Regions from separate parts of the Homo sapiens genome. Here region 2 is reported to be linked to region 1. Evidence: microRNA targets listed by miRTarBase, many of them from high-throughput screens and not tested one by one. Region 1 holds a microRNA gene; the other region holds the end of a gene's coding sequence.
The links. The annotated mature microRNA hsa-miR-585-3p reads UGGGCGUAUCUGUAUGCUA and lies in region 1 at 1,971-1,989, shown strand. An mRNA with a match to its seed (bases 2 to 7 or 8) in the 3' UTR can be bound and repressed. Matches are read on the target gene's strand: a 7mer-m8 pairs with bases 2 to 8, a 7mer-A1 pairs with bases 2 to 7 and ends in A, and an 8mer does both.

Region 2: the mRNA of MAPK1 is a reported target of hsa-miR-585-3p. The part of its 3' UTR that is shown has no 7-base or 8-base seed match.

Annotation. Positions count from the first base shown.
Region 1 is chr5:169,261,538-169,265,604 of GRCh38, reverse strand. MIR585 (microRNA 585) reads left to right here and starts at 1,911; the gene lies at 1,911-2,004. The region is part of intron 1 of SLIT3 (slit guidance ligand 3); the gene reads left to right.
Region 2 is chr22:21,765,415-21,769,481 of GRCh38, reverse strand. MAPK1 (mitogen-activated protein kinase 1) reads left to right here. Exons shown (of 9, transcript NM_002745.5): 8 at 162-287. The coding sequence ends at 278. Among named protein-coding and RNA genes, the nearest start is that of YPEL1, 32 kb to the right of the region's middle. RefSeq lists an enhancer at 2,331-2,400.

The DNA.
Region 1 (4,067 bases):
ATTTGCTAAGATTTGAGCCCAGGCTATCTGATTCTAGGGCCTGCCACCTTAAGCGCTATGTTTGGCAGCAGGGATCTCAAACTCTGATGCGAAAAAAGATTAAGCAGGTAACTTGAGTGAGGGAATTGGATCAGGTGGACTGGTGAATTGCAGGCATGTACCTTATGCAAAGTGGGCAATTGCCTCTTAGTACCAGCTTATGATGGCCACTAAAATCCATTGTTATTTGATGGACTGACCTTTGGAGACAAGCCAGAATTGTAGATTTGTATTTGAAATGCTCCCAAATTGGCAATTAATTTGCATATGTGAAAATCACAGTGAGAACCAGACTACGCAGGTCTGCAGGCCAGAACTCACCGGTGGGCTACCAGTTTGCAAGTTCGTCTCTGCTGTTCCCAGTAAAGAGCTAGTTGTACGTTTTGTTTGTTTGTTTGTTTGTTTGTTTTTGAGCATGGAGCTGAACTGAGCAAAACAGGGGCAGGGAGTCCTCCTGGTGCAAGGGATGAAGGAAAAGAGACCCCATGCCCAATACTCCTCTTTACATGCCCTCACCATGACCACATCCAACCACCCGGGTTGCCCCTCTGTTTGGCCCATTCTTCTCCCTGCAGGTAGCTGTCTGCACAGGGCTGGCTGCAAGCTTTTGCAGGTGTAAAATTATATATGCGAGAGTGTTGCCAAGCCAAAAATTTAGCCCAGAGAGGCTTAGTTCCCAAACAACTGAGGTAGTGTGAAGCCAGTTTTTAAAATCAAATTCAGCTCATTTCTTTCCCAAATGCGTGTATGTTTTTAAACTTGCATGTGGTTATGTAACAGATGAGAACGAAGTGCAAAAATCAGAATAGTTAATAATGCCTCCTGTGGTGTGAGTCTGGAGAGGTAAAGCATGAGATGGGAGCCCTATAAGGGTGGCCCAAAGGGAAACACTGCTCTCCTTGACCTGGTAGGAAGGTGATTTGATGGTTTTCAAACACATGCTGTTTCTCTCTTTCATCAGGGTAGCTGGGTGGGTGGCATTAGGTCCTTTGGACTGGGGAGAGGAGACAGAGGAAGACACCCATTAGGACCGCCTGATGTGAGCAGTTTCAGAGGTCTGCCCTTGGGCTCATCAAAAAGCATCTTCCGGCCAGGCACGGTGGCTCACGCCTGTAATTCCAGCACTTTGAGAGGCTGAGGTGGGTTTGAGGTCAGGAGTTTGAGACCAGCCTGGCCAACATGGTGAAACCCTATCTCTACTAAAATTAGCCAGGCATGGTGGTACATGCATGTAATCCCAGCTACTCGGGAGGCTGAGGCAGGAGAATCCCTTGAACCCAGGAGGTGGAGGTTGCAGTGAGCCGAGATTGCACCACTACACTCCAGACTGGGAGACAGAGCGAGACTCTGTCTCAAAAAACAACCCCCAAAACCAAAAAGCATCTTCCTTTGGCTAAATGGCTAAAATTCCAGAGTCTTGAATGGCTTAAACTCTGCATGGTCACTTTATCTATGGGGAGAGTCTTAGGTTAACTGGACTCCTTTTTTCAGTGGTTTTTTTTGGAAGGTAGGAGGTATATTGAATAATACATGTTTACTCCAGAAAACATTGATAATACTGATAAGCAAAATGTAAAATGTTTAAAAAAAAAAAACCCCGTTTCTCCACCCCGAGAAACCTAGTGTACATTTTTCTGAGTGTCTCCATGAGGCCTTCATCCAAGGTGTCTGGAGGAAGTTGGGGAGTATCCTCTTCAAGGTCCTTTGGGAGACAAGGCAGACACACAGGAAACAGGCAGCAGCAAGGCAACGTGATGAAAGACCAAAATGAGTTGTGCAGAGAGAGGGTAAATGATCCAGAAGTTCAGAAGTTCAGGGAAGGGAGAAGCCAGCACGAGATGGAGCAGCTGGGGGAGGCTGCAGGGGGAGTGTGGGGTGTCTGTGCTATGGCAGCCCTAGCACACAGATACGCCCAGAGAAAGCCTGAACGTTGGGCGTATCTGTATGCTAGGGCTGCTGTAACAATGTACCACAAACTGGGTGCCTTACAACAGCAATCATCCTTTCAGACTTCTGGAGCCTCGCAATCTGAAATTGAGGTGTCATCAGGGCCAGGCTCCTTCTGAAATCTGCAGGGGAGGGCCCTTCCTTGCTCCTTCCTGGCTCCTGGGCTTGCCAGCAGCCCTTGGCATTCCTTGGTTTGTAACTGCATCACTCCAGTCTCTGCCTCTGTTGTCACACGGCACTATACCTGCATGTCTGTCTCGTCGTCTTTTTATTATTTTTCAGAGACAGGGTCTTGCTCTGTCACTCTGGCTGGAGCAGTGCAATCATAGCTCACTGCAGCCTCTGCCCCCCTGGGCTTAAACAATCCTGCCACCTCAGCCTCCTGAGTATCTGGGACTATAGGCAAGTACCACCATGCCTGGCTGGTTTTCTCTTTTGTAGAAATAGGGTCTTGCTATGTTGCCCAGGCTGGTCTCAAACTCCCTTCTGGCCTCAAGTAATCCTTCTGCATCAGCCTCCCAAAGTGCTGGGATTATAGGTGTGAGCCACTTTGCTCAGCCCTGTCTCCTCTTCTAATAAGGACACCAGTCCTATTGGATTAGGGTCCACCCTAATGACCTCAATTTAACCTGATTACATCTGCAAAGACCCTACTTTCAAATACGATCACACTCATAGGTAGCTGGGGTTAGGACTTCAATATATCTTTTGAGGCACACAATTCAGCCCATAACAGAGCAGTAGGATTTAAATGGACGCAGGACTTTGAGGGCTTCTGAGGCCAGCATACAGACAGCAGGAACATATGTGCCAATGAAGTGCCTAGCACAGTTCCTGGATCTGATAGGTGCTCAATACATGTCTGTGGCTATAAAGAAGAAAGAATTAAATGAGGCAAGCTGAGGGCAGTAATGAGAACCCCCTTCTTATTGAGCTGTGGAATGAAATTGACATTTGGGGGAAATTAATCTGGCAGGATTGATGGCAGGGGAATGAGGCTGAGGGCTCTTAAATTGGTGGTTTCCTTGCTCGGCCCCTTTTATGGTTCCAGTCCCCAAGCATGTTGTCAGCCCCATAGATGCCTCACAGCCTGGACACCACCTGCCTCTGTGATCCCATTTGGTGTCACTCTGCTGCCGTCACCTGGACCTTTTTGTTTCCATTCTTCCACCTGGAAACGTCTCCCTTCAGCCTGTCCTTCAACTGGATCCTTCTTTTCCTTCTAGTCTCAGACCAAATCTCACTCTCTAAGAGAGGTTCTTCCTGGACACCCTAGGGAGGGCAGTGCCTTCACTGCCTCTCACCATATCTTTATTCTCTTCACCTCACCCTGTACTGTTTCCTAGCTATGCCCATATTGCAGTCTGTAGTCTCCTTGTTTATTTGTGGTGGCCTATCTCCCCCTGTGTTTTTTATTGTCATATAATGATAGCAAACTTCGTGGCTTAAAACAACAGGCATTCAGCACCTTCCATTTGTCTCGGCCCTCTGCTTCAGGGTTTCATAAGGCTGCACACAAGGGTTTGGTTGAGGTTGTGATCTCATCTCAAGGCTCAACTGGAGAAGGACCTGCTTCCAAGCTCTCAAGGTTATTGGGATAATTCAGTTCCTTGCAGTCTATTAGAAGGCTTCAGGTTCCTGCTGGTTGTCTTGAATTCTTGGTTGGTTGTGGGTAGAGGCTGCCTCCAGTTCCTTGGCATGTGGGCCTCCCAAACATGGCCACCTGCTTCATCACAGCCAGCAAGAGAAAGAGTCCTATAGCAAGACGGGCATTGCCGTCCCATGTAACATGTCACAAAGGTGACATCCGACCACCTTTTTTGTGTTGCATGGGTTAGAAGCAGGTCTCTAGGTTCTGCCCACTCAAGGAGAGGGGAAGGTGTTGATACTGGGGACCACCTTAGAATCTGTCTGCGGCATTCAGCAAAGAAATAAAAGTTCCTTAAAAGGAACTTCTTTGCTATTGTTTTACTGTCTATCCTTAGCCATCAGCATAGTGCCAGGTCTGGAGTAGGTGTTTAATAAAAGTTTGTTGTAGGAAGAAAAGAAGCAAGGAAAGGAGGGAGGGATTTTAAAAAAAG
Region 2 (4,067 bases), not on the chromosome of region 1:
CAGGTGTGAGCCACCGCGCCCGGCCATCAACTCTTAAGTTTTTATGAGACATCAGTCCTGTTGTAAATTCAGAATCTGAGCAGTGGTCATTTTATGAATCAGTAAATTACTGCCTTACCCATAACAACTTTGACTGTTAAATGTTTTGTTTTCTTTTAAAGCCCATCGCCGAAGCACCATTCAAGTTCGACATGGAATTGGATGACTTGCCTAAGGAAAAGCTCAAAGAACTAATTTTTGAAGAGACTGCTAGATTCCAGCCAGGATACAGATCTTAAATTTGTCAGGTACCTGGAGTTTAATACAGTGAGCTCTAGCAAGGGAGGCGCTGCCTTTTGTTTCTAGAATATTATGTTCCTCAAGGTCCATTATTTTGTATTCTTTTCCAAGCTCCTTATTGGAAGGTATTTTTTTAAATTTAGAATTAAAAATTATTTAGAAAGTTACATATATTCTCCTAGGAATCTCTCTCTCGTTTATTAGAAACTCCAAGTACCTCCTTTACTCTCAAGGGTAGTGAATGTGATTATTTGGAAACAACTTTTTCATATTCCAGATTGTTCATCTTTGGGTTCTCATCCTTTCCTTGCTGCCTGTCCAGAGCAGTTTCACAGTTACATGAGCATCTCTCTGGAAAGGGTTCGCCTCAGGACTCCCTCCCATGGAAAGCAGAGCCACCAGTTAAATAAATTTAGTATTAGAGTCCTCTGTGCCTGCCCCTTCAGAAACTCCTAGCTGGGACCTGGTTCTACAGTTGATGTCACATGCAAGGGGCCCAGACCCTGTTACCAGTTCAGACTAGCAGTGTAGGCTGGAGAGCTGGAGAAACTTCATCCAGGAGATGGAGGCTGGGCTGGCCAGTCAGGGGGATTTACATGGGCCTGCACAGAAGCTACATGTGCTTAGATCATAAGGGAAGGTGAACAATGTGACAATATTGGTAGATTTTAAAAATTGAGCAGGCCCAACACAATGGCTCATGCCTATAATCCCAGCACTTTGAGAGGCTGAGGGGAGAGGATCGCTTGAATCTCAGAGTCCAAGGCTGCAATGAGCTATGATTGTATCACTGCACTCCATCCTGGGTGAACCCTGTGTCAGAAAAGAAAAGTATACAGGAAAAGAATGCAAATCTTGATTTTAGAGAGTATGTGACAAGAGGAGAGAGAACTGGACTTGTGTTTAGAACTCTATAGAAAGAAGCAGTGAATAAAGAATTGTGGGCCAGGTGCGGTGGCTCACACCTGTAATCCCAGCACTTTGGGAGGCCGAGGCAGGTGGATCACGAGGTCAGGAGATCGAGACCACGGTGAAACCCCGTCTCTACTAAAAATACAAAAAATTAGCTGGGCACAGTGGCAGGCGCCTGTAGTCCCAGCTACTCGGGAGGCTGAGGCAGGAGAATGGCGTGAACCCGGGAGGCGGAGCTTGCAGCAAGCCGAGATTGCGCCACTGCACTCCAGCCTGGGCGACAGAGCAAGACTCCGTCTCAAAAAAAAAAAAAAAAAAAAAGAATTGTGAGCCAAGGTAGAAGCAGTTGCTGGGGAGATGCTTTGGACAGAACCGTGTTGCAGTTAGAGGCGTCCATTCCCCGTCAGTAAGAACAAAGAACCAAGTAGACATGAGCTGAGGACTGACATGACCAACTCAGCCTCCAAGCAGATAGCCCTGAAAGCCAGGCAGGGCAACAGAACGAGGAATTGGTAGGGAATAGACACTAGTAGTTTGGGGGCCGGAAAATGGTGTTTTCAAAAGTCTGACATCAAAGCAGGAGGGGTTGAAATGAGGGAATACTGGGTAGGAGATCAGCTAAGAACAAATGCCTGGTCTTCCATACCAAAGGGGCCGTAGCCTTGGACTAGAAATGAAGTGGTGAGAAGCGGCAAATTCAAGAGGAGGAGGAAAGGCAAAGTCTTAAAGACTCCAAGTTTTCTAAACCTACCAACTTGGGGGAGGCAGGGCTGCTGGCACTGTTAAGCCCTCACTTAGCCTGCTGTTAACACCAGACGCACCCCAAAAGACGATCTCTCAAACCCAAGGGAAGTGTTGTGGAGTCACGCGAACAGGACGTGCAGTGGACTGCTAGCCATAAGCCTTGCGGAGTGACTGAGAAAGAAGCCTGTTATCAGCAGGGGCTGAGCTGGTTCATGTCTTCTGTTGCCCCATACACATGTGGCTCTCTAGTGGAGGAGGTGTTAGCCACAGTGATTTGCACAATCACTCACTGACAGAAAGCTGGGCCCCAGGATCCAACCATTTTCACACCTGCAGTCCCCACAGAACTTCCTTCCTGGCTCCTCTGTGAGGTGCTCACAGTGGAGCAATTGTCTCTGTTTCTCAAGAGTCCGTCCCTCTCCCTCCGTGAGGCTCCAGGACACACTCCCAGTGTCTGTACAAGGTCAGGTTAACTAGACCTTGGTCAGCCCGCTGCCTTTCCTCTACAGCAGCGGCGTGGGGTAGTCATAACAGACCTGGATGGCCTGTGAGGCCTGCCCTTCTGTGAAGAGCACTCTCTTGCCGTTTACAGAACCTAGAATATTGAGCTGAGCAACTTCTGTTGCTTTTCTTCCTTCACAGTTCCTTTCACAGTCATTTTCCCTCAGCCAGGTGGTGGCTTGTGAGCATCTCATCTCTGTCGCTTCAGGTCAGGCGGCAGTGCTGCCTGCTTAGTCTGCATTAGACACTAACAGCAAACGCGGCAAGCAGGACCTAAACACAGCCTCAGAGGGGCCCATGTAGTAGGGGAGAAAGACACACACACACACAACTGTGCACATTTTTAGTATAAAAGAGCTTCTGGGGTTGACGTGATAATTTGTTTTTCATCATTTAATCAGCATTGAGCACTTCCTTTCGCCAGTTAGGAAAGGAACAAAGATGAATAAAACCCAGGTTTTGCTTTCCAGCAGCCTCATAGCAGGAAATGTAAACAACAAGGAGTATACAGAGTCCCAGAGATGGACACAGGCATGGTGGGTCCCAGAGAGTAAGGCAGACATTAAAGCCTCACAGAGTGTGGCCGACTCGCGGCAGTTGTGCTGCAGCTGAAACCTGACAGTTGGGTTCTTTGCTGGTTGGGGAGGGGCACAGCTGTGTGGACCCTGGAAGGCGGGCATGCCAGACAGCTGGGCAAGAGGGGGGCTGCAGAGAAAGAGGCCAGCCCAGGCTGTGGCCCTTGCTTCCCCAGGAGGCCAGCTCTCCCTCACAGGTAGCTGCCTGACCTGAAGCAGTGGCTCAGGTGACTCTGGTGGCAGTAAGGATGCAGGAGGACCTCTGAGAGCAGGGACTTGGGGGAAAACTGGTCAGGCCACTGAAGAGACAGGCAGCACCGCAGGCACAAGGATGGCAAGACAGAGGCAGGGTTGCTCCTGAGGCCACAGGGCGCAGTTGCTGGCAGAACGCCTCCTGAAGCCAGCTTTGCAAGGCGGGGGACCAGTATCCCTCTCAGGTCCACCACCACTCTGAGAGTCCCGGCGTGGCAAGGACAGTCACCTCTGTGCGTTGTTCATTTGCTCCAGACACAGAAGACACACAGATGCTCCCTATGTGCTTATAGCATGATTTTTTTTCCCAACATTCTTTTAGTGACAGTTTTCAACTATTCTGAAAAGTTGAAGGAATTTAAAGTAGACACCCATATTCCCACCACCTAGATTATACAGTTAACATTAACATCTTACTTGTTTTCTCATAGATCTGTCCATCTGTTCCTCTATCCACCCATCAACCCATCGCATTTTATCCATTCATTGCAAAGGACGTTGCCAACGTCTAGACTGACTTACAATTTAGTCATCTAGAATATCACATGAATCCAGGGGAAGCTGGGGCTGGGTTGGCTGATTAAACTATGGGATAGGTTCTTTCATAAACATTTCATTTTGGTGATCACAACAGAATTTTGGGAAGTCAGCATGCATCCATGTTTATAATTGAGGAAACTGAAGACAGGAGCCTTTGAGCACTTCGCTCAAAATTGTACATCAAGTGGCAAAACTAGGCAGAGAATCCAGGTATTTTGGACCCAGAATGTCATTTTCTTGAAATGTTTGCCAGCATGAAACAGT